4 linked regions of the Homo sapiens genome follow. The protein of the gene in region 2 interacts with the protein of the main gene of each other region in a pairwise test. Each region holds a gene or a part of one and is shown on either strand. Other genes may lie near its edges.

Region 1 (7,784 bases), on a different chromosome or scaffold from region 2:
TGCTTGTGGGAACGTAAATAGGTATAACCACATTAGAAAACTGTTTGTCAATATCTACTCCAGCTGCATGACCCAGAAATTCCACTCATGGTTACATCCTAACAGAAATAAGTACAGAGGTTCATCAGAAGACATGCACAAAAATGTTCATAACAGCTCTGCTTGTAATAGCTACAAACTGAAAACTACCCCAATGCTCACCAACTGTGGAATGAATAAATAAAACGTGACAAAGCTTCACAATGAAATACAACAAAGAAAATCAAATCTACCACACAAACTGCAGCATAGGTAAATTATACAAATATAATGTTGCATGAAAGAAGTTAGATACTATATATGATTCCACTTATGTAAAGCTGAAATGCAGGCAAAATTAACCTATGATGGTGGAAGTCAGGATTATGGTTATCTTGGTGCAGGAGAGGGGGAGAGCAGAAGACACAGAAAACTGGGAGAGGACACAAGATGGTGGGGAGATCTGATTACGGTAATACTGTTTCTTACTCTGGGTGTTTCACACTGAAAATTCAAACAACACTTGTTACATTCTTCTGTATGTATATTTCAATAAAAAGTTAAAATTTAAAAAAAACTAGCTATCTATCCTCATGTAGCAAAGATATTTAGCTTCCTAGATAATCCTCTTACAAATGTTTTTAATCATACATAGTTTTGCAAATATCTGTCATAAAGATCACATTTCCCCTTTGCCTAAAAGATGCAACTATGAGAAAAATATTTTTGTAAAGTAGACATTTTTTAGGGCCACCAAATTAAGAATTCCTAATCCATAAAATAATACGTATATTGCCTCTCTGTAACTCCTACTCCCTTATTTATTGCTACTCCTTTATTTCCTACTTTCTTCCTTATTGCTTTAATGAAAGTTTTCAAGTAGCATTCACTCCACCCATAAGACCAAAGTGACCGATCTTCAGTGGCTTGGACTCCTTTAAAAGTAATCAGTCCACATGGCTGTTCAAAGAAAAGAGAGAGAAAGATATGCAAACCCATTATAATAATGGAAAGGAACAGACCACCTTGCACTTTTTTACTTACTGTGCTCTGAACAGCAGTAGAGATGGTAGAGAATACACCAAATGCCCCAGCCACTGGGGAGGAGTTTTCATTCTCTTTGGCATTTGTCTCTCCTACAAGAGGGAGGGGATGTGTAAACATGAAGGGAAGGTCCCTTAACTCTCAGGCTTTATTAGCATCTATGTGAATTTTTTAAAACTAGACCCTGCTTACTACATACTAGGCCTTAGCCCTTTTTATCATTTTAAACCATTTGCTTATTTTAAAATGAAAGCTAAGATAGGCAGTTTTCATTTTCTTTTCATTTCGAAAATAAAATCCAGTTTTGTAAACAAACTGCTGATATATACAACAGCCTATATGTTGTATGATTCCAATTATATAATCTTCTGGACAAGGTCAAACTGTAAGGTCAGAAAACAGATCAGTAATTGCTAAGAACTGAGAGTAAGGAGAACAGTGACTACAAAAGGACGTGAGAGAACCTTTTTGGGGTAATAAAAATTTTCTTATGTCTCAATTATCAATACAGATATAGGAAACATTCTATATATCTGTATTGATCATTCTATATAGAATGTTTTCTATATCTGTATAATCACAGTGTACTATGATTACACAGTATAAACAGAAGTATATATACTGATCAAAACATGTAAAACTGTACACCTAAAAAGAATAAATTTTACTGTGTGTAAATTATAATTTGATAAACCTGATTTTTAAAAATCCAGTCTATTTTAAATTTTATCCTAGAAAATTATGATTAGTAGAAATCAAACAGACATACATTACAAAGATAGGTATGTTTCAAAACAAAAATCCATTAACTTAAAAATTTCACATAGGAGAACAACCATTATACCAAATAATTTCAGTATTATCAAATATTATAGAGAGGACTTCCACTTCTAGCATGATGGATTAACTGGTATTAGATATGACCTCCTGCCACAACAACTGAAAAACTGGACAATATATAAGAAGCAACTGTCTTCAGACATAGGACAATAGGCAGTACAAGACTTCGGTTCACACAAGAAGAACAACAAAGTAAACCTTACAATTGGCTTGGCTTTCTGTATAGAGGAGCTTTCCAGGCCATGACAGAGGGAGGAGAAACCCAAGTAGGGCATGGCAATCAGTTTGAGTGGAAGAAACGGAGACTGGAATCTGGGAATGCTGAAGCAATCGGAATTTGCAGGTCAGAAAACCGTAGAGGAGGAAGCTACATAGCTAAAAAGTTCTAAGAATCCGCATAGGCATGCCCTAAGACACCTTTAGGTGTTTTTGCTTAAATACTGCACTGCTGAGGCACTGGGAGGCTCCATAAGTCTGTACAAAGAACTACCATGGAGCTCTAAGCTAAGCAATCCCCAGAGCTCACGCTAGGCTGAGAGACATTTGACCTCCAACCACAAAAGCAGAGACTTTATATTAAACACCTGGGAATTAAGGTGGAGACTTCGGAAGAGTCAAGCCTTAGCAGCAGAGATAAACAGTACTTAGTTAGAGTAAAGGCCACTATAGACTCACCCTAAACAAGCTTTACAAAAAGTCTTGGCCAGACACAGCAGCTTATACCTGTAATCCCAGCACTTTGGGAGGCCGAGGCAAGAGGATCACTTGAGGTCAGGAGTTTGAGACCAGCCTGGCCAACACAGCAAAACCTCACCTCTATTAAAAGTACAAAAATTAGCCAGGCATGGTGGCCCATGCTTGCAATCCCAGCTATTTGGGAGGCTGAGGCAGGAGAAGAACTTGAACCCAAGAGGCAGAGGCTGCAGTGAGCTGAGATCGCACCACTGTACTTCAGCCTGGGCGACAGAGTGAGACTCCCTCTCCAAAAAAAAAAAAAAAAGCCTTAAAGCATCAATTTAAGTTGCAAATACCTTAACTGCCCGCCGACAAAAGGAAAGCAGAAGATAGCCCCCTTTAAAGGAAGAAAACAAAATCCCTAATAGATGATCAATGATTTCCATCAATGGCCTATGCTTATCTCAAAATTCTGAAAATATACATGTTGACTACAAGACACATCCTTGGCAGAGGAATTAACCTCCTTCCTCAGGAACTTTAGAAGATAGAAGGGGTTTAGTATCAAAAGGCAGTCCATTGTAATTTTGGAAAGTTCTCCCTGTTAAACTCTTTATTAAACTAAAACTTAACTCTATATAACTTCCACTGAGTGGTACTAGTTACTAGTTCTCCCCATAAACCATGAATAATAAACCTAATCCTCTTCTCCATGCTAGTCTTCAGAAAAAGACCAGGATATTCTCCCAATCTCCCTTCTCCAGATTACCAGATTCAATCTCTTATAAGACTTTCTCTTGTAAGACTTTAATTCTAGACATTTCACTATTGTGAAAGAAAATAAAACTCAGGACCCCAAATTTACTATGCCAAAGGGAACAGTTAAGCTGAAAGCTAAGTTACACAAAAACTGTCTTTCCTTTTGTTCCTAAGCAGAAAGGCCAGACAGAAGGCCAGATGTTTCCACAGGTAGCTACTCTACGTTTACTTTATTTCATGTAAACTGCCAATTTACTGAGCATAAGACAAATACATAATTGACTCTACCTCTGCTCTTTCCTTTTACACGTAAAATGTGGATTCAGTGAACACTGATCAAAGATTCAAAAGAAGGCAACCACTTGCCCCTCTTATCTACCCTCCCCTTTCTTTACTTCCTCTTTCCCCTAGAGCCCACTCTTCTTCCTTTAAATATTGAAGTCACCAGACCCTCTTCAAAAAAAGTATGGAAGGTAGATTGTTTCTGTGGTTTGTGTTCCTTTTTCCCAGGTGCATCCTCAAACTTAGCAAAATAAACCTCTAACTTGATTGAGACCTGTCTCAGACACTTTTTGATTCACACTATCTAGCTGACTCTTTTCTGGATTCACCCAGTTTTTCAAAGCCCTTCTTAAAACATGGCCCTCTGTGGTAGATATCTTTCAGTGTCATGAAGATGCTGCTGTTAACATATTCAAAGCCACTTCTAACCCCCTTTTTCCTTGGCTGCTAAACCCATATCCTGATCTTGAGGTTTCTGATAATGCCCAAAACGCACTCTCTCAGCATCTCTTGCTGCTACATCAAGAACATGAGATCCTGTTCTAGGCAATGGCATTGGAGAAGAAACATGCTTGGGACTCCTGGAAAACATTTCCCCTCTTTAAAGAAAGAGGGATGCATGAGGAAAAATGACACTTCCCATCTACTTCATTCCTGACTTTGAGCATGGTTATTTTAGAACACTATACTTGGAGTTGCAGTATTATCGGACAACCATAAAGAAACTATAAAGAAATCAACAAAGAATACTGTAGAGAAGCCAGCCCAGAACCTTGACATCATTGAGCCACTAAACTAACTCTGGAACAGCCTACTTCTAGAGTCCTTAAGTAAGAAAAATATATTGACTTTCATTCACACATGCTGTTACTTGCAGCTAAAATAGTTTAACTGATGCAGGCATCACTAAGAACAGTGCCTCCAGTTCACATCCATAGTCCTTTGCAGCCATGTTTATACATGTGACTTGTCTCCAGGCCATAAGTGATCCATGGACATATGACCCAAGTTTAGACTGATTCTTTTACCTAGGAATTCAGAAGTGGAAATAACTGATGCCAGGATTCAATATAAAGCTGGAGCTGAGGAAAATAAGCAGCGAAAGTCAGTCTGCTTCAAGAAAAAAACTGAGACAGATCAGCAAAAAGAAACAAGAGTGAGAGACAATAAAGCCCATGAGAGATGAAGAATGCAAACCAGGCCTTGAAAAGATTCCTATTTTCTGGTCCCAGGCCCTCTCGATTTCTGGTTATAATTCTAGCCTTCATAGTTTGAGAGTAGGTTTCTGTCTGATCAAGGCTAGCCTCTAGAATTAAACGTAGTCTTCATAAAAATCTGAACACAAAAGGAATACACCCCCAAAACAATACATTAAAATATTTTTATCATGTCACAACAGACTCAGATTCAGCTAACTCTTATTAGTCTCTTATTCAATTATGCCAAGCAAAATGCTAAGCAATTTTTATATTGTATATTCATGGCCTTATTTGTTAAATGTTTATAACAGTCACTTGAGATATAAAATATCATTCTATTTCAGATGTGGAAAGTGAAGTAAAGGGACACATAAGCAGTTAAAGGACATAGATGTCTAATTGGGAACTAAAGATTCTAAATACTCTTTCTCACTACAGTCCCACGATGCCCTGAGTATCAGATGTCCAATAAATACCTACTGAAAAATTAGTTCAACTGTTCCATTTCAATTCATAATTCTAGGTCTTTATGTTTCCATATACTGACCTGCTACATACTTGACTTCAGTTGAAATTTCACTGGGACCAGGGATTCCAAGGGAAGTCTCTGCCTTCTCGATGACATTTGAAATGCCTTGTCCTAATGAGAAAAATAACTTTTTTTTTTGCTATTTGTCACCAAAACTGAAGAAACAAAAATCAAACTTGAAGATTTTTAAAATCATTTAGGACCACAAGACATGTTATTTTGACAATACATAACTAATCTTGGCACTATTTCCTTAAAAAAATTGATTCATCATCACCAAAGAATAAGTTCACAGTAATAATTCCTAGACTTCAATATTCTAATGAGGAAATGCTACAAACTCTAGTGGCAGTATATATCAGCCCATCATTACTAATGCATCCTCAAATTATAAAGCCTTTGAGTAAACATGGAAGGAAGAAGAATTTTAACCAAGTCATATGCAATGCAGATCTGTATAAAATAAATACACACACAAAAATAACTAAATGACTGATGATCTTACCTACTGTAGCTACTGTAGCCGAGGCTGAGGAGAGTATGGACTTGCCCCAGCTCCCCCAATAACCCCATCTGGTCTGGGGTACATCTTTGGAAACATTATCCTAATTTCCCAGTAGGCAGAAAAACAAAAGGCAAAGAAAAATGAAAAAATTAGAGGAAAATCAGAATGTACAGACAAGGTATCTAATTATTAGCCAAAAGCATGGGTGAACAAATACATATTATTTAGCTAAAGAAATGTATTGCTTGACTGGCAGATATATGCTATCAGCATGTAAGTACCACATAGCAAAAGCAATTATTCATAAAGGCATTTATAGAACTGAAAAGACTGTATTTTAGGGTTGTAAAGAGAAAGAAATAAGAGCAATTCTAAATTGGTATTTATGCCAAATTTCTTTTAGCCCCAACATTTTTTAATCCTAATATTTTAATAGATACCCTACTTTTTCTGTGGTCTGTGATACCTGAATAGGGAGAACTTTTGAAGTCTCAAGGTCACTGGAAGGTTTGGTCTCTGGTCTTTTCCGAGTGGAAACTACAGGTTCTGATTTACTCTCTGGTTTGGCACCTTGGTCAACAGACTCAGAATTCTTGGCTGGCTCACAGTTTCCATCTTCAAGGATGGGGGCTGCTTCAGTTAGCAGTGGAGTCTCAATATCATCTTTATCTGACATGATTAGAACATCAGCTGGTAAAATGAAAGCCCAAAAAAAATTTATATAGGCTTCTTTGGTATAAAGTATTTGTTTAAACTTTTTAGTTTGAGATTATCATAGATTCACATACAAGTATAAGGAATAATACAGAGATCCCATATACCTTCATCCAGTTTCCCCCAATGGTAAAACTTACACAAATATAATATCACAACCAGGAAACTGATATCAATGCAATCCACTGATCTCATTCAGACTTTATCAGTTTTAAACGCACTCATTTGTATTTAGTTCTATAAAATTTTATCGCATGTATACCTTTGTGTGACTATCACCACAATCAAGATACAGAACAGTTCAATCACAAGGATCCCTTGTGCTATCCTTTTTTAGCCATAACCACTTCCGACACTCCTTCCAACCCAAAGCAATTACTGATCTCTCTGATGGACAGGTGTCCTCCATCTCTGTAATTCTGTCATTTCAAGATGTTATATAAATGAAATCATACAGCATATTACCTATTGACATTGACTTTTTTCACTCAGCATAAGCCCCTCAAGATCCATTTAAGTTGTATTAGTATTCCTTCCTTTTTATTTCTGAGTAGTATTCCATAGTATAGATGTATCACAATTTACCCATTTATCCATCGAAGGATATCTGTATTGTTTCCAGTTTGGGACTATTATAAATAAAACAGCTATGAAAGTTCATGTATAGGTTTTTGGGGGAACATAAGCTATCATTTCTCTGGGGTAAATGACCAAGAGTGCAACTGCTGGGTCATATGGTTAAGTTCATGTTTAGTTTTATGAGAAACTGCCATACTCTTTTCCAGACTAGCTACACCATTTTACATTTCCACCAGCAATGTATGACTGATAAGTTTTTCTGCATTCTTGCCAGCATTTGACATTGTCCCTATTTTTTATTTGAGCCATTCTGACAGTTGTGTGGTGATATCTCATTGTGGATTTAAGTTGTACTTCTCTAAGACCTAATAAGGTTGAACATCTTTTCATGTGCCTATATGCCATCTGTATATCCTTGTCAGTGAAATATCTTTGTATCTTTTGCCCATTTTCTAATGAGATTTTTTTTTTACTGTTGAGTTTTGAGAGCTCTTCATATATTCTGTATAATATGTGGTTTGCAAATATTTTTTTCCAGTATGTAGCTTATCTTTTAATTGTCTTCATTGGGCCTTTCAGAGCAAGTCTTTAATTTTAATGAGGTATAATTTATCAATTTTTCCTTTTACTTATTGTCCTT
Region 2 (7,784 bases):
ACCATGCCTGGCTAATTTTTGTATTTTTAGTAGAGATGGGGTTTCACCGTGTTGGCCAGGCTAGTCTCGAACTCCTGACCTCAGGTGATCCGCCACCTTGGCCTCCTAAAGTGCTGGAATTACAGGCATGAGTCACTGCGCCTGGCCTAGGCCTTTTTTTTTTTTTTTTTTCTTTTTTGAGACAGAGTCTCACTTTGTCATCCAGGCTGGAGTGCAGTGGTGCCATCTCAGCTCACTGCAGTCTCAACCTCCTGGATTCAAGCAATCCTCCTACCTCAGCCTCCTAAGTAGCTGGGACTACAGGTACCCACCACCATGCCTGACTAATTTTTGTATTTTTAGTAGAGATAGGGTTTCCATGTTGCCTGGGCTGGGACTTCAGGCTTTTACACAAACCTCCTGCTAACATACCAGTAGATGTGTGTTTATCAGTTTATCAGAGAGTTCTCTCTGACCTATCATATTTTCATATTTTCTCTACTCTTTTTTTTTCTTTTTCTTTTTCTTTTTTGAGATGGAGTCTCATGATGTTACCCAGGCTGGTCTCAAACTCCTGGTCTTAGGTGATTCTCCTGCCTAAACCTCCCAAGTAGCTGGGATTACAGGCATGCACCACTATACCCAGCTACTATACTGTTTTTGTCTCTGTTCACCCAGTATTTATCCCACATATGTGAGACGTACTATTGCGTATTAGGAAAAAGACCAAATGCTGTAGTAAGTGCTCAGTAACTGTCTGCTATATGAGTACATGCAGAAACTTTAGCTGTGAGTACATTTGTTTAGAATGAAGAGGTTTCCTTTCCTTTCTGCTGAGAATCAATGGTGTAAGTTAGAAGCAATGCAAGAGATGATATTGCTGCCTGGGGGTATATCAGGTCTTTGGGGAAGCCAGGTTACTGCTGTGGAGAGGAACGATGGAAGGCTTACCTTGCTCTGTGTGTCTTCAGCTTTGAGGAAGGCGGCAGGAGAAAGTGTGGCCAGTACTGGCCTTTAGAAAAAGACTCTCGGATCCGATTTGGCTTCCTCACAGTGACCAATCTAGGCGTGGAGAACATGAATCATTATAAGAAAACAACGCTAGAAATTCACAACACAGAGGTAAATCCAGGTTTCTTTTTTCTCACCTTGTTGAAACAGGGGGAGAATAATTACTGTAATGAAAATCTCCAGAGGGAATAGGTAGGATACCAGGGAAGTTATGAGTTGCTTCTGTTTTTCTAGGGACAGGATGAGGATATTTAACTCACAGCCAATATAGCCATATTACTGCAGCACGATAGGAACATTAAATAGGAGTAAAGCTTATAATTTTAGAAATCTGGGGCTGGGTGCAATGGCTTAGGCCTATAATCCCAGCACTCTGGGAGGCAGAGGTGGAAGGATCACTTGAGCCCAGGAGTTCAAGATAATCTAGGCAACACAGTGAGATCCTGTCTCTACAAAACATAGAACAAATTAGCTGGGCATGGTGGCACAAGCCTGTGAGGTCAAGGCAGCAGTAAGTTTGATCGTGCCACTGCACTCCAACCTGGGCAACAGAGTGAGATCCTGTCTCAAAAAAAATTCTGGATCTTACAGTATAGGAATTCTGCCTTTTCCAATTAACCAACCCTTCCTTTGGGTTTGTAGTAAAGAAGCAATTATGGGAAAAGTTGACAGTGGTGGATAGGAGCCTTGGTGGTAGGGATAACCAGGGTGTTGAGAATCTGGAAAAGCCAGAGGTAGCTAGGGGCAGGCAGAAATAACCTTGTTAACGTTTACTTCTTTTCTTATCTAAGGAACGGCAGAAACGCCAGGTGACCCACTTCCAGTTCTTGAGCTGGCCAGACTATGGTGTCCCTTCCTCAGCAGCTTCCCTCATTGACTTCTTGAGAGTGGTCAGAAACCAGCAGAGTCTGGCTGTGAGCAACATGGGAGCACGCTCCAAAGGGCAGTGCCCTGAGCCACCCATTGTGGTCCATTGCAGTGCAGGCATTGGCAGGACAGGTAACGCACCTAATGCAGCTCTTGGTGTCTGCAGGGGCAGTAGGGGTGGACGAGGAAAAACAAAGCTCTTAGCCCACATCTGTGATTGGAGAAGGAACTCACTTGCTCCCTTGGTGGTGAATTGCTGTGAAAAATCCCTCATCTAATGTCCTTTTGGTGGACCAAGTGATGGCCAGAATATATATTTCACAAGCCAAGTCCTCTAGGGGTTGATGTTTTATACACCCCATCATAACGCTGACTCTGTCACCTGTTAGAACTGTCACTGCAGGTATCCCAGAGAGCTCAGCTGGGCTGCTGCTTCCTTCCCATCCAGCCCTCCCTGGAGGGACTCCCCACCCTGTGCTGTGTTCTCCATTCTGGAGCCAGTTAGCAGCTTTTGCCTTAAGGGCATGTACATGGTAGGAAATGTTGGCCTTTCTATTTCAAAGGTCCCTTTGGGAGAAAGTTGAGAATAGGTTTTTGTTAGGCCTCTGAAAAACTTGTGGACTCTGGAAATTAGGTGTGGGAGTGCTGTCAGTCTGTCTGTCTGGGATTGAAGCAGGAAGTTCCCCTGTGTCACCTTCCCATTTCCACTTCCTGTTACCCCAAGTGTATGTCCTGAGAAATAAGAGGCCTTCTCATTTCTCTGGCCTCCAACACTCCCTGTGACCTCCTTCTTGAGTCCTTTCAGGCCTAAGGCCACCTGGCCTTCTGCCATGAGGCACTTTGCCTGTGAAGTCATTCATTCAGTTCTGCCTGGGTTATTTGGTAGAGGGAGGAAGAGAAGAGAGGTAAACCAGATGTGATCACTTCCTTCCTTCTTCAGGTACCTTCTGCTCACTGGACATCTGCCTGGCACAGCTGGAGGAGCTTGGCACCCTTAATGTGTTCCAGACGGTGTCACGCATGAGGACCCAGAGGGCCTTCAGCATCCAGACCCCTGAGCAGTACTATTTTTGCTACAAGGCCATCCTGGAGTTCGCAGAGAAGGAGGGCATGGTATCCTCTGGCCAAAACCTGCTGGCCGTGGAGAGTCAGTAACTCTCCTACGAACCTCCTACCTGTTGGCCAGCCTTCCTTAAACTACCCTGGACACCGCTGAGCCTATAGGTTGCCATCAGTTACGCTGAAGCCATGGATCAACTTCTTTCTTGTGTCTCCCAGCACACGTGTGCACGCAAGGCAGCCTTTCCCTTTGGCTAGATAAATGTGGTGAAATTGCCACTAGAAAGGGCCAGTAGCAATGTGTTCTTAATTCCTAGCATCTGCTATCAAACTGTGCCTTATTAAAACCAAATTGTGGCTATTGATTTTTGCTAGGGTCCCCGAGGTAAGTGGGGAAGGAACCTCCCTCCTCCTTTCTCCCGCCATTCTTTTTCTGAGGTCTCCTGTCTCCCACTCCTTCCCTTTCCTAGGATTTTATGGGGAGGTTTGATGAGCATTTGCCTTTCTCCCCAGAGAGCTTGACCAAGTTACATATTCTAGAGATCGTCCTGAGTGCCAAGCACGTTTATAAGTAGGGCGTGTATTCCAGTCCTTTCTGTCATTCTGTGTGTGTGTGTGTGTGCACTTATGTGTATGGGTCCATATGTACGTGTGTATATAATATATATTGTATGTGATAATATGATCGTATTCTATAAATACATATACACACGATACTCCTTTCCAGAAGTTCCTGGGGCTCCGTGTTGCAGTTCAGGACTCCTTGCTTCTTGGACCCTACTATTTATCCTGGACTAGCTTGGGTTGGTGATCATGTCTCCTCTTGTCAGGCTACAGAGTGGTGGAAGAGGACACACACACATCTCCTCCATGTTCCTGCCACAGGGCCCCTTCCTTAAGTAATGACTTATCTCCTTCCAGTTGCCACCTGTTGGAGCCAAGAATGTATTAGTTTGTGGTGACACTGGGTTAGCTCAGCATGGATTTCCCTTATCCGATGATTTTTCTACATTTACTTGGCCAATTTGGGGAACAGACCTCCACTGTGATTCCATACTCTCTCTTTGCTTTCACTATCCCAGGGATGGGAGGCGGAGGGTAGAGATGAACTCACTGAGCAGCCAGAGCCAAATGCAATCGGTACGAATCTTAGAAGGAAGGAGGGGGAGCCCAGGTATGAGAAAGAAAAAACCACTAAGAAAATACCTCCCTGGGAGGATGAGCTGGGGCCCTTTTTCTTTTGCTGGATGGTTCCTTTATGCAGCTTGGCCCTGTCTACCGAGATGCCCATCTCTTCCTGCCTGCTAGCCTGCTAGACCCTCAAACTGGGTGGGTTCTGTGTCAATAAAAAGCTTCACCCCCTGGCTGAGTGAGGTGGTCCCCTGCAATCACTGTTTGTCCCCTACCCACCCAACCTGTCCCTGCCTGCTCCCAGCCCACTCATCCTTATGTGCTAGGGATAAATCAAGAGTCCTCAGCACTCCACATTCCCAAAAAATCCCAGGAACTCCTAAACCTTCCCCTGTGACAGAAGATGAGGTTGGCAGCTGATCAGACCTCAATAATTTTATACTGTAATAAGCTCTTTGAATGTGTATATTATTATTTTTTACAATCATTTCATTTTGTATTTAATATCAATGGACTGAGTCTGATTCAGAAAATAATTGTAATGTTCATATTCAATATCTTACAGTGATACAGTTTTGTATTTACATATAAATATACCGACATGATCAAAACCCTTTTAGCTTCATCAATTTAGCAGCCTGGGACATGAGGGAGGGGGTCCAGGAGCTGGTCTGGGAGGGATGAGGGAGGCAGGGAGGGACCCAAGCCTTCAGTATCTGAGACTTTGAGTTCTGACACTATGAGTTCACCTTGTCTGTAGGCCATGGCCCTATCTCTGGACAGAGGGACCAGCACCAGTTCAGTGCTTGAGATGTGCTAAGCACTATGCTAGGTGCTTTTCCCCCACCCTGCCTCATTCAAACCTCACAACAATTCAGTGAGATATTATCTTCTCTCCCTTCTCCTGTGCACCCCTTTCTCATTTCTATATAGATGAGGAAGGTGAGGTCCAGAGGGTTACAGTGATTTGCTCTAAAACGAGCTCAAGTTGGTCTGCTTACAAAGCCTGTGGTCTCTTCACTGCATGGAAGATGGAGATCTTGTGTTTGGAGAACAGAGGTTTGTTTAGCTCTCCTTTCAGAGTAAAAAAAGTTCTTAAATTCCAGGTTGTTGTTCTTGTGCCCATGCTTCATGTAGTAGACGCGAAGGGTGACAGGGTTGGTGACTGACTGTCCTAGCTAGGACCTCCTGATGTAGGGTCCTCATGTCTGCAGCGTACCAAAGGGGTTATCATTCTCCCCAGGAGACTCCATATCTATGGGTACATGGTCTTTGTGAGAAGATCTTGAGTCATTTGCATTTATCTCTTAGAAAGAAAGGAACCAGAAGCTTTGTACATGGAAGACCACTCCCCATATCATACCTGTTGGCTGTTGATGGCCTGCCCAGTTGGGGCAGTTGTGGCTGGGAAATATTGGGGTGTTCTTAATAATAGTCATAGCAGCCAATTTACTGGATGCTCACTCTATTCCAGGCACTGTTCAGAGTAATTTCTAGGTATCATCTCATTCACCCTCAACAACCTTTTGAGGTAGGTATTGACAGAAGAAAAAAATTGAGAGACAGGAATGTTAATTTGCTACAGCCAGGATCCCAGACCATCTGACTCCAAAGTATCTTCTTTCACCTCTTACACTAGACTTCCTCTAAGGATCCATCTTCTGATCTGCCAATAAATTTTTATCGAGTTTCTTACCATAATCAGGAGCTCAAGTGTAGAGCAGAAGATTAATCTAGTTCCTTCTCCAGATGAGCCTCCATTCTCTTGGGAGTGCACAAACATAAGAAGTGAACAGAGATTCTTGGAAATCTGAGAAACCAGAGAGGTCAGGGGTTTGGTGGAACATGTAAGAAATGGGATTAATGATAAACGGCCTGGAGGAGGTAACTTTAAATTGTCATTTATTTGAAGAGGCTGTAACCCGACTGCCCTGTGAATTTAAGGTTATGCATGAGTTCCTCATTGCATATCTGAAGACTGGTGAGGTTATCTATCACTTCAGCTCCATAAAATGCTGATTTCTGGGCCCATCCAGTAGGTTGTTAGTGAGTGACAGGATTATCCAGGTTTGGGAACCATAGATTTAGTTCATGTTTCTGACCCTATAGAGAGTTAACAAATTGATGTCTCCTAAATTTTCAGTAAAACTCAGAGGAACTCCTCCCACTGCCATTGTTTGTAGCTTTTACCAGCGTGAACCTACCTGTGTTAGGTGTTAAAGGAGGAGGTAAAGGAAAGGGAAGGCAGAGACGCAACCCAGAATCTGTTTGGCAAGTCAGGGTTCTCATACAGGAGACTTAGTGAACAAAGCAAGAGAAAATGCTCAGGGTCCAAGTGCAGTGGCTTTATGCCTGTAATCCCAGTACTTTGGAAGGCCGAGGTGGGCAGATCACCTGAGGTCAGGAGTTTGAGACCAGCCTGACCAATATGATGAAACCCCATCTCTACTAAAAATATAAAAATTACCCGGGTGTGGTGGTATGTGCTTGTAATCCCAGCTACTCGGGAGGCTGAAATGGGAGAATCACTTGAATCTGGGAGGCAGAGGTTGCAATGAGCCGAGATCGCGCCATTGCACTCTAGCCTGGGCAACAAGAGTAAAACTCCATCTCAAAAAAAATAAATAAATAAAAAAGAAAGACAGTGTTCAGGAAAGAAGAAAACACTGAGCTAAAGCAGGCTTCTGCTTCTGATTTGATGGCTGTTTGTTTCACCTTTCTCTAACATTCCCATGCTATATAATTTTTCAAACATGAGATAATCCCTGTGTCCTTTTTCCCATTGCTCCCTTCATCTTGCCCATCCTCATTGGCTAGGATGGGACTCCTGAGACGAAGGGTGCCCCAGCATCCTCAGCCTCGGAGGCCCACCCTTATCAGTCTTCATGTGACAGTATGCAGGTAAATGACAGAGTAGGACTTGTTCTTGGGAGAATGGACTATTTAGCATCATAGCCCTAGGGAAATTTGGTTCCTTCCCTGAAAGGAATGCTTCCTGTCTCTTGGGACAGACAGACACACATACAAAAACTTTTATAAATCAGAGACCTAGAGGGAATTGGGCCAAGAGGCATTGGCCAAGTAGAAAAGCTTCTCTAGAGTGACCCAGCTCTTTTGTGGTTTTGAGGTCTTACCACTGAACCAAACCCAAGTCCTAGGTTCCCTCTGTAAAAGAAGGGGCTACACTAGATGATCCTACCATGGGTCCTCTGACTGTCAGGGTCCAGTTCTTTGTTAGACAGTGCAAACACCCATAGAGGAGCTATTAGGCCTTTACTTGGGTTGAGTTGGCTCCCACTAGCACTCCCCACTTTTCATTTTTTTTACTTTCAGAGACAGAGTCTCACTCTGTTGCCTAGGTTAGAGGGGAGTGGCATGATCATGGCTCACTGCAGTCTCAACAACTGGGCTCAAGCAGGAACCCAGCTTTTTTTTTTTTTCTCTCTCTCTCTCTAGAGACAGGATCTCACTATGTTGCCCAGGCTGGTCTCGAACTCCAGCCTCAAGCAATCCTCCTGCCTCGGCCTCCCAAAGTGAGAGGATTACAGGCATGGGCCACCACACCCAGCCTCTCCAGTTTTAGTGTGTTTTCAGAGTCTCTTCTTTCAAGCTGCTGCTACTTCCCTAGCTTCCCTCAGTTCTCTTCCCCCTTGGCCTTCCAATTGGAGGAAAAGCAGGTCAGGTCTCTGTCATCTCCAAGACCAGCCTATAGGCCTTTAAAGTTTCCCTGTTTCTTA
Region 3 (7,784 bases), on a different chromosome or scaffold from region 2:
TAATAGACAAAAAACAGAAACAACTTAGGTGTCCAGCAATGGATAAAGAAACATTACTAATTCTGAAAAGCACCCAAAGCCAAATGCCAAGGAGAAGGGGATTACTGGATTGCTCTCTGGGTATAGATCTGCAAGCCTTCTGCACAGAAAGGAGAACAGGGTTTTCCACACCAGTCTACACATATGAAGTCAAACGCTGCAGGACATTACAGACTGCCTCAGTAGGAACAACTCAGAGACTTGTTACAAGGTTAAATCTAACCAAACTCCATGTCACCTTTTATATCCCACACCCACTGAAAGTTGGAAAATTCTCCCTTGTGATTTAAAAACATCTTACAATATTTGCAAGTATATTACTCCACTACACCACCAAAAACTGTAGGTCTAAATACAGGCTTAACTCTATCACCCTTTTGGCAAGAAAATGTTACTTTACACTTACGGTTTAGCAATTCTGGTTGAAACAGACAGACTCACTCAGGTCACCCCAAATGCTGGGAGCAGGAGAATATTTTAAAGATATATACAGAAAGAAGAACGCCAGGTTTCACAGAGATTGAAATTCTTCATGACATGGCACATCCCTTCTAGTTAAAAAACACCTCTAATGAAGGACAGGAATTCTTGAAAATGGCCTTCAAAAGCCTAGTGAGATAACTGCTATTCCACTGCTTTGGACAAGTACCTTTGTTAAGATCAGTCAGCTGAGGCCAGGGTGGCAAAAGTCACACCCTAGAGGACATGATCACAAATGTGTAAGCTACCATGAGGGCTGCTCCCTCAGCAGAAGCTGAGGCTCAGAGCATAGCTGGTCTCTGAACATAAAGCATCCTCTCTAGCTGAACTGATCATACTTAATTCCAATATCCAATATGGTCGATATATTAGAACAGAGAAAATGCAGGAATACCTAGTTTCACTGTACTTCACAGATATTGCCTTTTTTAAAAAAATAAATTGAAGGTTTGTGGCAACCCTGCATCAAGCAAGTCTCGCAGCACCATTTTCCCAACAGCATGTGCTCACTTCACATCTCTAGCGTCACACTACGGTAGTATTCGCAATATTGCAAACTTTTTCATTATCATTATGTCTGCTATGGTGATCTGTGATCAGTGATACTTGATGTTACTACTGTAATTGTCTTGGGGTGCCACAAACCATGCCCATAACACTGCAAACTTACTTGATAAATGTTATGTGTCCTGGCCGGGCACGATGACTCACGCTTGTAATCCCAGCACTTTGGGAGGCCAAGGCAGGCAGATCACCTGAGGTCAGGAGTTGGAGACCAGCCTGGCCAACATGGTGAAACCCCGTCTCTACTAAAAATACAAAAAGTAACCAGGTGTGGCGGTGCACGCCTATAGTCCCAGCTACTCGGGAGGCTAAGGCAGGAAAATCGCTTGAACCTGCGTGGTGGAGGTTGCAGTGAGCCGAGATCACGCCACTGCACTCCAGCCTTGGAGACAGAGAGAGACCCTGTCTCAAAAAAAAAAAAAAAATTGTGTGTCCTGACTATTCCACCAACCAGTTGTTCCCATTCTCTGTCCCTCTCCTTGGGTCTCCCTATTCCCTGAGACATTACAATATTGAAATTAGGCATCTCTGTAGGTTATCCAACTTCTGCTTGAATTTCTGCAAGTGCTGGAGAATGCCCTACCAAAAGAGCATTGTCAGGCCATGGTAGCAGATTTTTAAAAGTCTGTTTGGACAAAATTTACCTTTACCTTCAAGTAAACTTTGCCAGTTAACCTTAGATTCTTTTTCTAAAGCAACAAATAACAAGTTTATTCACTTACCTAAGAACACTTTAAGTATCTGATGGGAGCTCTCCTATTTCCCTTTAGCCCTCTGTAGACTAAATCCACTGAGTAATTGAAACTTAAATTGTTCTTCCTAGAACTTGATTCCAGTCCCATGACCATTCTGACTGTCCTCTTTGGGCATATCCTAGTATTTTCAAACCACTCTTTAAATATGCACTTGCAATTGAGAAGAATACCCAGCTATTAGACCAGAACAGAATACTATAGGATTATTAATTTTAAGGAACTGATCACTAATTTCACTAAGCCAATATATATTTTTCAGCAACTATATCACACTGGTGGTTCATATTAAGGAAATAACCAATAAATTATTTGGATCTGCATTTATCACTATTAAATATTAATCATAGTCCAAAAAAAACTTTTGGTAATATCAGCACAAGAACAGTTTACTTTCGAAATTTTCATAATCACCATCATCTCATATGACTGTAAAGCTACAGGGCCAAAATAAAACTGTGTTCAAATCTTAGTTTTGTCACGTGGCACAGCAGCCTCCTATGGCAGCAGCCTTCCCCTGGCCATATGAGATGCTCAACCTAGACAAAAGTTTTCTAAACATCTGAAGAATACCGACCATGGCAACGGACACTTCACCCTAAATGAAGATTGTCTCAAAAAGAATGACAAATGTGGTTTTTAAGGCATGGTTTGAACTCTGGTAAGATTAAAAAGAAACTGTTAAGAGAGTTGTGACAGCCTGGACTAAAGAAACAGTTCAAAATTAATAGAAACTTCTGGGCTCCCAATTTTCAATGGGCAAGAAGCAGGCCAAAAATGCTACTCAGCTGCCAAAAGGGCTCATTCTTATAGAAAAAAATAAATAAAGGACCTCTCAGAGGGTGGAGCCAAAAGCAGAAGAAAATAACAGGTGAAGGAACCAATACGAGGTAGCAGAACTGGGCCCTAATCAAGAAACATTCATTGTCCCCAATGTAGGGGACCCTAACAACACGTGCCTGGCTAGATTTCAGAACTGCTATGCATCAGCAGGTGCTACACGCCTCCCACTCTTTCCCTATTTGAATGGGAGTGTCTAGTGAAGTTATCCTACGACTACCTCGCCATTTTATACTAGGTGTATCTTCAGATCATAGGTCTGTCTCCAGTCAAGAAGTGGAGCCTATTGCTTGCCACTCCTTTTAAAATCTAGGCTGAACTTGTGCCTTGTTTTGACCAACAGAATACAGCAGAAGTAGCATATGATTCAAGAAGCCTTGTAGATTCAGCTCTTGCCCTCTGGGAGCACTGCTGCTACTATGCACAAAGCCCATTTATTACTAGTAGAGAGGCTACATGAAAGACAGCTAATTGCTGTGCCCACTGACATCTCCAGGTAACCAGCAGGCACTTGAGTAAGGATATCTGAAACCATAAACCAGGTGACTGAAGCCACTTTAGTGACTCCAGAAAAGAACATTAAAAAAAAGAAAAAACCTGCCCAGCTAAGTCTAGCGCAATTAACAGAATCGTGAGCAAATAATTGTTATTTTAAGCCATTATATTTTGGGATTGTTACATAGCAACAGATAAGTGAGACAGTGGTAAATAAGATAATGGTGCATCTTACAAAGGATGGCATCTTAAGTTGATGAAATATAACAGCAGCTCAATATGTGCTTTTTAAAAACATTAACATGAGGAAAAATGAGCAGGAATTCATGCAGTTGACATGAACGTAAAATAACACAGGCCCACAAACTGCAACCACTATGTTCCAGATTAATGTTAAAAGACAGTTTTCAAAATGTGACAATCACAAAGGAAATCCTCAGAATACTTTCCTAGTGCTATCCAATCTCCAAACTCAAAATTTTATATCTTTTTTTTGTTTGTTTTTTGGGTTTTTTTTTTTTTTTTTGAGACAGGGTCTCACTCTGTCACCCTCCCGCCTCAGCCTCCCAAGTAGCTTAGATTACAGGTGTGCACCACCACACCCAGCTAACTTTTAAATTTTAGTAGAGATGGAAGTCTCACTATGTTGCCCAGGCTGGTCTCAAACTCTTGGGTTCAAGCAATCCTCCTGCCTTGGCTTCCCAAAGCACTGGGATTACAAGCATGAGCTATCAAGCTCAGCCTCAAAATTTTAAACAGATAAGGGAGGAGTGAAATCAACTTGTAAGTATCATTGTCAAGGTAAATGAAATAAGATGGATAACATTCTTGATGTTACAAAATGAAAACTAAGGTCTGAACGTTTGTTTCCTTAAAAATCACATGCTGAAACCTATCACCAACGTGATGGTATCAGAAGGTGAAGACTTTGTGAGGTGACTAGGTCAGCAGGGCTCTGCTCTCAAGAATGGGATTAATATCCCTATTAAAAAAAGGACCCAGAGGCCAAGTGTGGTGGCATACACCTGTAATCCCAGCACTCTGGAAGGCTGAGGCAGGTGGATCACTTGAGGCCAAGAGTTCAAGGCCAGCCTGGCCAACATAGTGAAACTCCGTCTCTACTAAAAATACAAAAATTAGCTGGGCATGGTGGCATGCACCTATAATCCCAGCTACTCGGGAGGCTGAGGTAGGGGAATCGCTTGAACCCAGGAGATGGAGGTTGCAGTGAGCCGAGATGGCACCCCTGCACTCCAGCCTGGGCGACAGAGCAAGACTCCGTCTCAAAAAAAAAAAAGAAAAGAAAAGAAAAGGGCCCCAAAGAGCTGCCATCCCCTTCTGCCATGTGAGGACACAAAGAAGATGCCATCAATGAGGAAAAGGACTCACCATACACTGAATCTGCTGGGACCTTGATCTTGGACTTCCTAGCCTCCAGAGTTCTGGGCAATAAATTTCTGTTGTTTATAAATTACCCACTGTGAGGTACTATACTTTGTTACAGCAGCCCAAACAGACTAAGACAAATGAATAACACACTTGAATTATGGGTCATTTTCAATTTTAAATTTCAACTCTTACAATGCCACCAGATTACTGTAACTTAAAAGATAACATAAGTGAGAATGCTGAATTTTAGGCCATTTCTAAAAAAAATTTCAATAGACTAAAATTAATTTTTGAGGCCAAAACAAAATGGACACTATGCTCAATTTTAACATGGAGATATTTTATTAGGGAGGAACTACGTGTTGTGAAAAAGCACCAGAATTCAGACAACCTTGGTCTAGTCTAGCAGGTTGATGTAGGCAAAGCACTTAATTATTTTTAGCTTTGATTCCTTGACTATGATCAGTCAAACAGCTACTACCAGCACTCCAGAAGATCCAAAAGTAACATAAATTTCACTAAATTCATAGCTAAGCATATAGAGATTATTAAACAGAACTTTTTTTTTTTTTTTTTTTTTTTTTTGAGATGAGTCTCGCACTGTCGCCCAGGCTGGAGTGCAGTGGTGCCATCTCAGCTCACTGCAACCTCCACCTCCCAGGTTCAAGCAATTCTCCTGCCTCAGCCTCCCAAGTAGCTGGGATTACAGGTGCCCGCCACCACGCCAAGCTAATTTTTTGTGTTTTTGGTAGAGACGGGGTTTCACCATGTTGGCCAGGCTGGTCTCGAACTCCTGACCTCGTGATTCGCCCGCCTCAGCCTCCCAAAGTGCTGGGATTACAGGCGTGAGCCACTGCGCCTGGCCATTAAACAGAATTTCTTAAATTACTATTAATACTAAATATTAGTACCTAATTAAAACCACTATACATTAAGCTCTTACTATATGCTAAATGTATGTTCATCTAATCCTATTTACAATCCTATAGAGAATGTACTATTACCCTATTTTACAAAATAGTAAACTGAGTCTTTCTTTTTTAATACTTCTAGGGTACATGTGCACAACGTACAGGTTACATATGTATACATGTGCCATGTTGGTGTGCTGCACCCATTAACTCGTCATTTACATTAGGTATATCTCCTATCCTTCTCCCCTCCCCCCACCCCATGACAGACCCCGGTGTGTGATGTTCCCCACCCTGTGTCCAAGTGTTCTCATTATTCAATTCCCACCTATGAGTGAGAACACGCGATGAGTAAACTGAGTCTGAAAGAGGTTAAGTAACTTTCCAAGGTCTCACAACCAGTTAGTGTCAAAGCCAGGATCAAGCCCAGATCTTTTCAAATTCTTGAGCCAAAATTTTTTAATCCTATCCTCTGCTGCCTCCCCTCAACTCTAACCTCCAAATACAAAACAAGAATTTTGGTATCAAAATGCAACCAGGGAGCACATACAGTGTCACCAGTAATGGACTAGAAATCAGGAGACCTAAGTTCTAATGCCAATTCTACACTACCTACACATGGGCACAAGACAATGAGCAAGTGTGCCTCTGTGGGCTTTGTTTTTTAATCTATGAGATCTGACTGAATATATTTTAAGAATTTGCCCCCCCAGCTGTGAAATTCTAATTCTCTTCATATTTTAAAAATTAATTTAAATGTTATTTCCATAATGAACTATCTTATTCAATCAATTATCATGTTAATATGCAAAAGCATAAAGCATGAAAATTTTCTGACCACTTACTAATTTCTTCCTTTTATGAACAAACTGCACTTGTTCCGGCACTTAACCATACACTCTTATGCTGACTTGTAAGAGCCTATATTGCTGACCTCTGCTGGTTATTAAACTCTCCCCTTTCATTCATTTTCCAAGCATATTTGTCTCACTGTTAGACTAATAGCCATAAGGACAGAGACACTTCTTCAGTATTTGTTGAATGAATAAACTCAACAGAAAACAAAGGACATACAGCAATTCTTCAATAATTACATGTTGACTATACAGAAAATATTTTTCCCTCTATAGCTTTAAAACCCCATTTTAACAGCTCAAGAGTGGATCCTCAGAAACTTCTATATAATTAATCACCTATTTTCTTTTCGATCACTACAGATTTCCAGTTATTCCAAGTTTCTTGATGCGCAATGAAAGCCATTCAAATTTCATAAAACCATTCACTAAGCCTAGGAAAACCACTAGAATATAAAGCAGGGGCTCAACAAAAAAAAATGAACTGAATCCAGCAAATAGCCTTACAAGAACCAATAAAATCAAGTAAACCACTATGGTTATATTATATAAGGAGAATAGACTCAAACTACTTTCATGATACGGCACAAACGAAGATGCTTGCAGAAGTATTCCTAACATAAAAGTGAAGGAAAAGAAATGCTAAAAAATGAAAAAGGCAATGGAAAACAAATAGGATTTAATGAAAAAGAAATTAGCATAGTTACCAAATGCGAAATATCATATACTTGAAAATAAGAGCTTTATCTTCAAATACTGCAAATAAAAACAGATTTGAAAAATGGGTCGGGCCCAGTGGTTCACGCCTGTAATCCCAGCACTTTGGGAGGCCAAGGCGGGTAGATCACGAGGTCAGGAGATCGAGACCATCCTGGCTAACACGGTGAAACCCCGTCTCTACTAAAAATACAAAAAATCAGCCGGTGGTGGCGGGCGCCTGTAGTCCCAGCTACTTGGGAGTCTGAGGCAGGAGAATGGTGTGAACCCAGGAGGCAGCGCTTGCAGTGAGCAGAGATCGCGCCACTGCACTCCAACCTGGGCGACAGAGGGAGACTCCGTCTCAAAAAAAAAAAGAAAGAAAGAAAGAAAGAAAAACGATCTGCTTGAACGCAGTGGCTCCCGCCCGTAATCCCAGCACTTTGGGAGACTGAGGCAGGTGGATCACGAGGTCAGGAGTTCAAGACCAGCCTGGCCAATACAATGAAACCCTGTCTCTACTAAAAATACAAAGAATTAGCCGGGTGTGGTGGCGGGCACCTGTAATACCAGCTACTAGGGAGGTTGAGGCAGGAGAATCACTTGAACACGGGAGGCAGAGGTTGTGGTGAGTTGAGATCACGCCATTGCACTCCAGCCGGGGCAACAGTGCAAGACTCCGTCTCAAAAAAAAAAAAAAAGTAAAAAAAGAAAAATGATCATAAAGTAACTCAAATGATTCTAGAAACATTTCAGATTTAAGT
Region 4 (7,784 bases), on a different chromosome or scaffold from region 2:
GGCTCACAGCAAACAAGTAGCTGTAAGGCAGGAAGTTACACAAGCATTTGCAAAGATTTTAATTAGAAAAAAGTGTTTTAAGGAACATTTAATAGAATTATACTTTGTAGGCCACACAGGTTATTGGTTCAGATTAATCAGGACTTATAAGGTTTGTTTTCTGTGTTCCATTCTAAAGAGCATAAATATTAAATGCTTATAAAATACACTTCATTCAAAATGCTTTAAATACAAAACACAAGTTGAGCACAAAACAATGCATCATGGTCTCGTGGATACATTTACAAAACACTGTAATGAAAAATTAACAGCCTCAAGTAAGTAGATAATACTATACAACTCTTGCTCAACAAATGACATTTTAAACAAAGGGAGAAAAAGCCCACGCAATGTCAATTAGTGTTGTTCTTTTAACCATATTGAATGTGATTAAAGAAGAAATTTTCGAATTTTTAGTAGTGGTATTAAAATTAAGTTACTTTCTAAACTGGATTAAAAACAGCACTAAGTCTTCAAAGAACTTACTTAAAGTTGTTAGAAAATTTTGACTTTCCAGTTGGCAATATGACCAAAATACATAAGAGGGCAAATCACAAGTGACAGCATGGAGATGTCCCTAAACATTTCACATTTCGTACAGATCGAGGACGGTGTTCACTAGTACATACGTGTCATAAACTGGACTTTCTTGGCTCAATGACAGGTGTAGAAAATCGTGATTCTTATAAGACTCTCTCATAAAGTCCAAGAACAAACATATTCAACAAAAAAAAAATCTAAACTATGCACTTTTGTTTCTTAAAAAACAAAACAGTGTAAATCAGATTTTAAGCTAGGAAGAGGAAATCCGTTTTTTAGCCTCGCGGCTGTATCCATCCTCCTGTTCAGCTGAACGGATGAAGCACAATAGCGACAACTTTGTTACAGACTAAAATCCAACAGGTAATTCCAACACCACCTGAAAACAAAGACATTCACCATGAGAGCGCATACCAGCAGTGCTGCCCCCATCTGTCTCTGCTGTCTTTAACTCACAGCAAAGAGAGTATTTCCATTCTTTTTGAGCAGTGCTGGGCTGAAGTGAAGTTTATGTTTCATAGGTTCAAATTTGTCACTTTCTTTTTTTTTTTTTTTTTTTGAGACGGAGTCTCGCTCTGTCCCCCAGGCTGGAGTGCAATGGTGCGATCTCGGCTCACTGCACCTCTGCCTCCCGGGCTCAAGCGATTCTCCTGCCTCAGCCTCCCGAGTAGCTGGGATTACAGGTGTGCACCACCACACCTGGCTAATTTTTTTTTTGAGACAGAGTCTCGCTCTGTCACCCAGGTGGGAGTACAGTGGCGCGATCTTGGCTCACTGCAAGCTCTACCTCCCGGGTTCACGCCATTGTCCTGCCTCAGCCTCCCGAGTAGCTGGGACTACAGGCGCCCGCCACCGCACCCGGCTAATTTTTTGTATTTTTAGTAGAGATGGGGTTTCACCGTGGTCTCGATCTCCTGAACTCATGATCTGCCCGCCCCGACCTCCCAAAGTGCTGGGATTACAGGCATGAGCCACCGCACCCGGCCGACACCCGGCTAATTTTGTATTTTTAGTACAGACACGGTTTCACCATGTAGGTCAGGCTAGTCTCAAACTCCTGACCTCAGATGATTTGCCTAACTCGGCCTCCAAAAGTGCTGGGATTACAGGTGTGAGCCACCATTCCCAGCCCGAATTTGTCACTTTCTATAGAATCATAGGGCTGTATTCTTTACTAAGCAGGAATTGCAGTGAACGGTGGACCCTGGGCTGAATTTCCCTTTCCTGCCAGAGAGATGTGCATTACTATTTATGATATTAATAGATTCCAAAACCAAACCTGTAAGATTATTTATTTTTCCTTTCTCAGAAAGCATTATAAACAAAGCAATGTCTACCTATGCCTTTCTTGCCCCACCAATAATGGAGAGGCATACATATCCCCCTGTCCAGGAAGACAGGCTGCAAGAGTGACCCATGGACCTGCTGGATGCATGGAAGGGTGGCTGGATGCTTCTCTGGCCGCAGTGCAGAGCTCCTGGCCTAGGCCCAGCTGTGTCAAACAAAGGAGAGGGGAAGGAAAGGGTGGGGAAGGGGACAGGGGTGGTAGCTAAATTGGGAGTCTTTGAAACAGCCATTCCTGGCCAGGCACAGTGGCTCACACCTGTAATCCCAGCACTTTGGGAGGATAAGGCAGGTGGATCACCTGAGGTCAAGAGTTCAAGACCAGCCTGGCCAACATGGTGAAACCCTGTCTCTACTAAAACTACAAAAACTAGTCGGGCGTGTGGTGGGCACCTGTAATCCCAGCTACCGGGGAGGCTGAGGCAGGAGAACCACTTGAACCTGGGAGGTGGAAGTTGCAGTGAGCAGAGATCACACCACTGCACTCCAGCCTGGGCGACAGAGTGAGACTCGGTCTTAAAAAAAAAAAAAATAGTCATTCCTTTTGATACAGTATTCACCTCTAACATAATCACAAATCACAACCAAAGACCAGCAAGTATGTGTGCTGCAGCATTATCTTTAATAGCAAAAAATCAGGACCGGAATAAATATCCTTCATCAGGAAAATCTGCAAATGAGATATCTAAATGAAGAACAGCTACTGAAAATTCCTTAATAAAGAAATTTGCCAGGCAAGGTGACACACCTATAATCCCAGCACTTTGAGAGGCTGAGGAGGGAGGATTGCTTGATGCCAGGAGTTTGGGACCAACCTAAGCAACAAAGCAAGACCCCATCTCTATAAAAAACTTTTTTTTTTAATTAGCTGGGCATGGTGGTGTGCAACTGTGATCCTAACTATTCAGGAGACTAAGGTGGGAGGACCGCTTGAGCCAAGGAGTTCCAGGCTGTAGTGAGCTATGAGGGTGCCACTGCCAGCCTGGGCAACAGAGCAAGACCCTGCCTCAAAAAGAAAAGAGAAGAAAAAAAAGAAAAGAAATGTACTGATATGGTGCTATGGTCTGAATGTTTGTATCCCCCTAAAATTCATATGCTAATATGCTACCCCCCACAGTGATGGCATTAAGAATTGGGGCCTTATGGGAGGTGATTAAGTCACAAGGGCAGAGTCCGTGTGAATGGGATTAGTGCCCTTATAAAAGAGGCCTAAAGGAGCTTGTCCTTCCACCATGCAAGGACATAGTGAGAAGACACCATCCATGAACTGGAAAATGGGCCATCATCAGACACCAAATCTGCCGGCACCTTGATTTTGGACTCCCCAGCCTCCGGAACAGTGAGAAATAAATTTCTGTTGTTTATGAGCTACCCAGTTTATAGTATTTCACTTAACCCTAACAAACTAAAACATGTGGGAATAGGCTTACCCTATAAAGTAAAAAGGAGGCACAACATGTGATGTGCCAGGTGACCTTAACTATATCAAAATAAATGGGGAAAAAAAGGCAAAGAAAAACATATCACAGCATTAAAAGCTAATAGGAATCTTATTTTTTATTTATTTTATTTTATTTGACACAGATTCTCACTCTGTCACCCAGGCTGGGGTACACTGGCGTGATCTCAGCTCACTGCAACCTCTCGGATTCAAGTGATTCTCACACCTCAGCCTCCCAAGTAGCTGGAATTACAGGCACGCACCACCATGCCCAGCTAATTTTTTGTATTTTAGTAGAGATAGGGTTTCACCATGTTGGCCAGGCTGGTCTCAAACTCCTGAGCTCAGGCAATCCGCCCACCTTGGCCTCCCAAAGTGCTAGGATTACAGGCGTGAGCCACTGCACCCAGCTGGGATTTTTAATTGATAGCTATATTTCTAATCATTCTATAGTGACATGTACTACTTTTAATATCTAAAAAAAATTTATCTTCAAAAATAAAAGAACGTGGCTGGGCATAGTGGTTCATGCCTGTAATCTCAGTACTTTGGGAGGCCAAGGCATGAGGATCACTTAAGGTCAGGAGTTTGAGACCAGCCTGGCCAACATGGTGAAACGCTGTCTCTACTAAAAATACAAAAATTAGCTGGGCGTGGTAGTGCATGCCTGTAATTTCAGCTAGTTGGGAGGCTGAGGCATAAGAATTGCTTGAACCTGGGAGGCAGAGGTTGTTGCAGTGAGCCAAGATCGCACCACTGACTCCAGCCTGGGTGACGGAGTGAGACTCAGTCTCAAAAAATAAAAAATAAAAGAATAGCCAGGAGCAGCAAGTGCTACAGAGAAGCCAACCATAATAGGGATTGAAAAGATACATAATTTTGGAACTACGGCTAGTGTTTCAATGGGGTATCAGACTTGACGTATTGGGCATGGATCCCGGAAACAGACCTAGGACTGAATCCTAGCTTTGCTCCTTAACATTTTGGTGACACTGGACAAGTGAAGTAACTTTTTCAGACCTCAGTTTCTTCATGGGAAGCCTCATGTGAGGCTGAGACACAAAACCCCGCTCACTAAATGGACGGTGAGGAGGATGTCAGGCTAACTTAATCTTCTACCACACACCTCTACATAAGCCTATTCACACTCTTCCACTGCATCTTCCAGAAAATTCTTACCTGCTACTCTAGTAGGAAAGGCTACCAGGCGGTCTAGAGGGGTTATCCATTTACTCGGCACGACAGCCACAGGGACAGAATAATACTTCCAAATGAGTGAGATCATCAGGGCAGCCTGTAAAGACACCTCTGGTGAGCAAAGCAGCCTGCCAATCACACAACCGACCACACAGAAGGGAGGACAGGGAAATGCGAAAATAAAACCAGGAAAACTCTCCAGACTGAGCACCTCAAGCCTAGGAACCCAGTCCCCACAGACAACAGATGAGCACGCACAGCCACTAATGTCCCTTGGTGAAACCTTGAATGAGAAAGTCAAATTAAAGACGAGCTCAGCAGCATGTCTGAACACTGCCAACAAGTAGGCGAGCCTTCCTATGTGAACTGGCATTTCACTGTTTTAGGATGAACACAATCTACACATAATTTAAATTAGCTGATAAACTAACCAAAGTCTCCCATAACACGGGTGTGCTTTTCTCACTGAGTATCTCGTTTGAGTAGCCAGACTGTATGCTCAACACACCTTATTAGTGACGAAAGCCATCCTTGGAAAAAATAGTGAATTCTCCCACGTACACCAGTGTTAGCAAGGGACGCAGAGGTGAGCCCTGTGTAAGTTTCAATGGTGGGGGATGCTTTATTTCCCTCCATCCCCCCACAGCATTCCTTCGATTGTCATCTGTCCCCTTCCTGGCTTGAACAGGCCGCTCAGAAGAGACATGAAAGAGGGTTGCTGGCCTAACTCCTTTGTCTGCGGAAACTTATCTCTTAGCAAATGACAGTGCCTCAGAATTAATTTCCTTCAATATACCCTGCCAAACTAAGCTTTTTTGGGGGTGGGCTTGAATCCTTTGCCTTGGTTACCGGATCACATGGTACTGCAACTCGGATATTTACGGCAGCTGCTAAAGGTGTCTGGGCAGCACAACTGCACTCTCGGGGCAGAGCAGAGCCCAACAGCTCCAGGAGAGGCTATGAGGGTTAAGCCCCAGGCAGGGAGGCTAGAAGCCAATTCCAGTCGGAAAAGCTGGTTCTCTACCTGGAGGGTGGAGAGCGTGCATGAAGTACACCAGGTAACAAGTAAGGGCCAAAAGTATTGAAGATCTCAGAAAAAACTGATGTCATCTATAAGCCTCTCGCTTCATCCCACCAGGCCCTTCAAACCACACTGGGATGCAGGCATGGTGAAAGCTCTCCGAGAACTTACTTCACAGTCCATCTGCCAAAAAGTCCCAAACTTTAACAACTCTCCTCAAGAGAAAGGCTTCCTTTTAGTCTGACTTAGAGACCGAGAGTGTTTAGAGCTCCATGTGGGCAGGGACACACGACACGACAGCTGAAGGTGGAACAGCCCGAACTCCCAGCCCTGGATCTGCAGACACGGCTCTGGAGGCCGGGGTCACCAACTCCAATGACCCGGCTGACGCTCTAGCACACTTACCTGCAATACGTAGAAAGCGACACTTATCACCCATTTTATCTTGGCTAATTGAGCTGTCCGAGCTTTCACTGAAAGGAAAAACAGGATAAATAATTATGTCAGTCCTGAAAAATTAACAAAATATTCAAATACACAGAAATGTTATTTTCCCTTATAATACACTTTCTGATTATAAATGGAACAATCGCTCAACATATTTAGAAAATATAAAATAGAATTTTTAAGTCACCCACCATCTCATTATGCCATTATTTAAAATAGTATCCGACTCAGATTGAGATTTGAATAGCTTTAATTTTGAAAACTCTTAAAACGACTCATGAAATCAAAGATTCTTTGTATAATACAGTTACCACTTACCAACAGGACTAAATTTTCCTCCTTATTTCCCAGTGTGCACAGTACACGAACCCCTGGTGGGAGTCCAGCTTGTCCTGGGCCTGGACAGGCCCCTCTGTCTGTTTTCCTAGCCACAGAGACAGCTCTCTGACTGTGCACACACTGTGACCGGGGTCCCTCAGCACACGGGCTGCCCTGAGAAAGCGCTCTTCATCACAGGACACTGGACCCGGGAGGTGACACTCAGAAGAGGACACTGCTGGGCATTTTTCTAGAGAGTGGAACAAAAGCCTCTGGGAATCCACTGTGAGACTTTTTTTCTGGGCTTCTCTCAGAAAAGTGATGAATTTAAAAATGAAAACCTACAATTTTTAAGAGTTAGCTTAAAATTTTAAAGAGTTGGCTCTGAGGAAAATCTGAGAGGATCTTAGATATTTCTGTGCTTAGAAAGCAAAGGTTCACCAGCAAATAAGAGGAAAGTAATACTTATTACTGAGTTTCCTCCAGATAACTTAAGTTTCCATCAATATTCAGAACATCCAAGAAGCAAAGTATGTATTCTACTAATCTTCACATACAGACTTCTCTATTCATCCGCTCTCATGAAGCCTCCAGGCTGCAAGGGACACAGTACCATGGGTTTTGAGCTTATCCGTCATCTTGTTGATCTTTCTTTCCAGCCTGGCATATCTGGCAAACTCGTCCATCATGTTGACTGTGGAGAGCTCCTGCTTCATGTCCTGGATCTCCGCTCTCATCTGTGACTCCTGCTCCGCGTCCTTCTGCAGCACCCTGGACATCTGGCAGGGCGGACAACGGGGATCAGCACCTTCCAACACGGGTCACAGGAGGGTTCCCCAGTCCCCCGCTACTTTCTGTCTATGCCCTGACCACTCTGTGACCCAGCCAGTTGTGTGCGTCCCTGCAGGACTGAATGCAAACTGCGGCCGTGAACGTTCCCAGGACTGATAAAGAGCAAAGGCTGTTGCTGGAGAACACTGGGAGATTCATCCTGCTGAGAAACACCTACAAACTAGCCCCACCATGACAAAGTCCTTAAACTCCCACATACACTCCATACCCCAACCCCCGGGTGGCAGACAGCCCTAGGTAAATGTCCCTTTCTCTCACTGGCTGTCCCGGGACTGCCGCAGCTCTTGTAAGTTCCCGTCATGAATGCTGTGGACTTATCACCCTGGCGTTTAGTGCTTCTTTCTTTGGAATCCAAGCCAGCCCCATCTCCAGGCAGTCTGGAGCAGCCCCTTGAGGGAACTCCCCTGCCACTGCTTTTGAGGTGACTCCAGCATGGGTTTGGCCAGACAGAACCGGTACACCTTCCTCCAACATCCTACTCCCACCTCTGCCAACTGGGCAAGCTGCCCTCTACCTACACAGCCAGCCTCTGCTGCCTTTTTCGGCTCCCTATAACGACCACAAAAAAAAAAAAAAAAAAAACTC

The links.
Region 1: the proteins of PTPN9 (region 2) and FAM114A2 interact in binary tests that used the Homo sapiens proteins (3 or more experiments, as listed by UniProt).
Region 3: the proteins of PTPN9 (region 2) and SCAMP1 interact in binary tests that used the Homo sapiens proteins (3 or more experiments, as listed by UniProt).
Region 4: the proteins of PTPN9 (region 2) and GET1 interact in binary tests that used the Homo sapiens proteins (3 or more experiments, as listed by UniProt).

Annotation. Positions count from the first base shown.
Region 1 is NC_000005.10:154,028,427-154,036,210, forward strand, and holds part of FAM114A2 (protein FAM114A2), read right to left. Parts: intron 6,542-7,784; 5' UTR 6,528-6,541; coding exon 6,318-6,527; intron 5,952-6,317; coding exon 5,852-5,951; intron 5,458-5,851; coding exon 5,365-5,457; intron 1,155-5,364; coding exon 1,063-1,154; intron 1-1,062.
Region 2 is NC_000015.10:75,463,997-75,471,780, reverse strand, and holds part of PTPN9 (tyrosine-protein phosphatase non-receptor type 9), read left to right. Parts: intron 1-930; exon of another isoform or gene 931-950; coding exon 951-1,101; intron 1,102-1,781; coding exon 1,782-1,989; intron 1,990-2,797; coding exon 2,798-3,012; 3' UTR 3,013-7,784. UniProt on the Homo sapiens protein: Protein-tyrosine phosphatase that could participate in the transfer of hydrophobic ligands or in functions of the Golgi apparatus.
Region 3 is NC_000005.10:78,362,833-78,370,616, reverse strand, and holds part of SCAMP1 (secretory carrier-associated membrane protein 1), read right to left. Parts: intron 1-7,784. UniProt on the Homo sapiens protein: Functions in post-Golgi recycling pathways. Acts as a recycling carrier to the cell surface.
Region 4 is NC_000021.9:39,390,040-39,397,823, reverse strand, and holds part of GET1 (guided entry of tail-anchored proteins factor 1), read right to left. Parts: intron 7,127-7,784; coding exon 6,961-7,126; exon of another isoform or gene 6,348-6,960; intron 6,056-6,347; coding exon 5,988-6,055; intron 4,659-5,987; coding exon 4,544-4,658; intron 959-4,543; coding exon 885-958; 3' UTR 1-884. Other genes in the region: GET1-SH3BGR (WRB-SH3BGR readthrough), read right to left, coding at 5,988-6,055, 6,961-7,126. UniProt on the Homo sapiens protein: Required for the post-translational delivery of tail-anchored (TA) proteins to the endoplasmic reticulum (ER).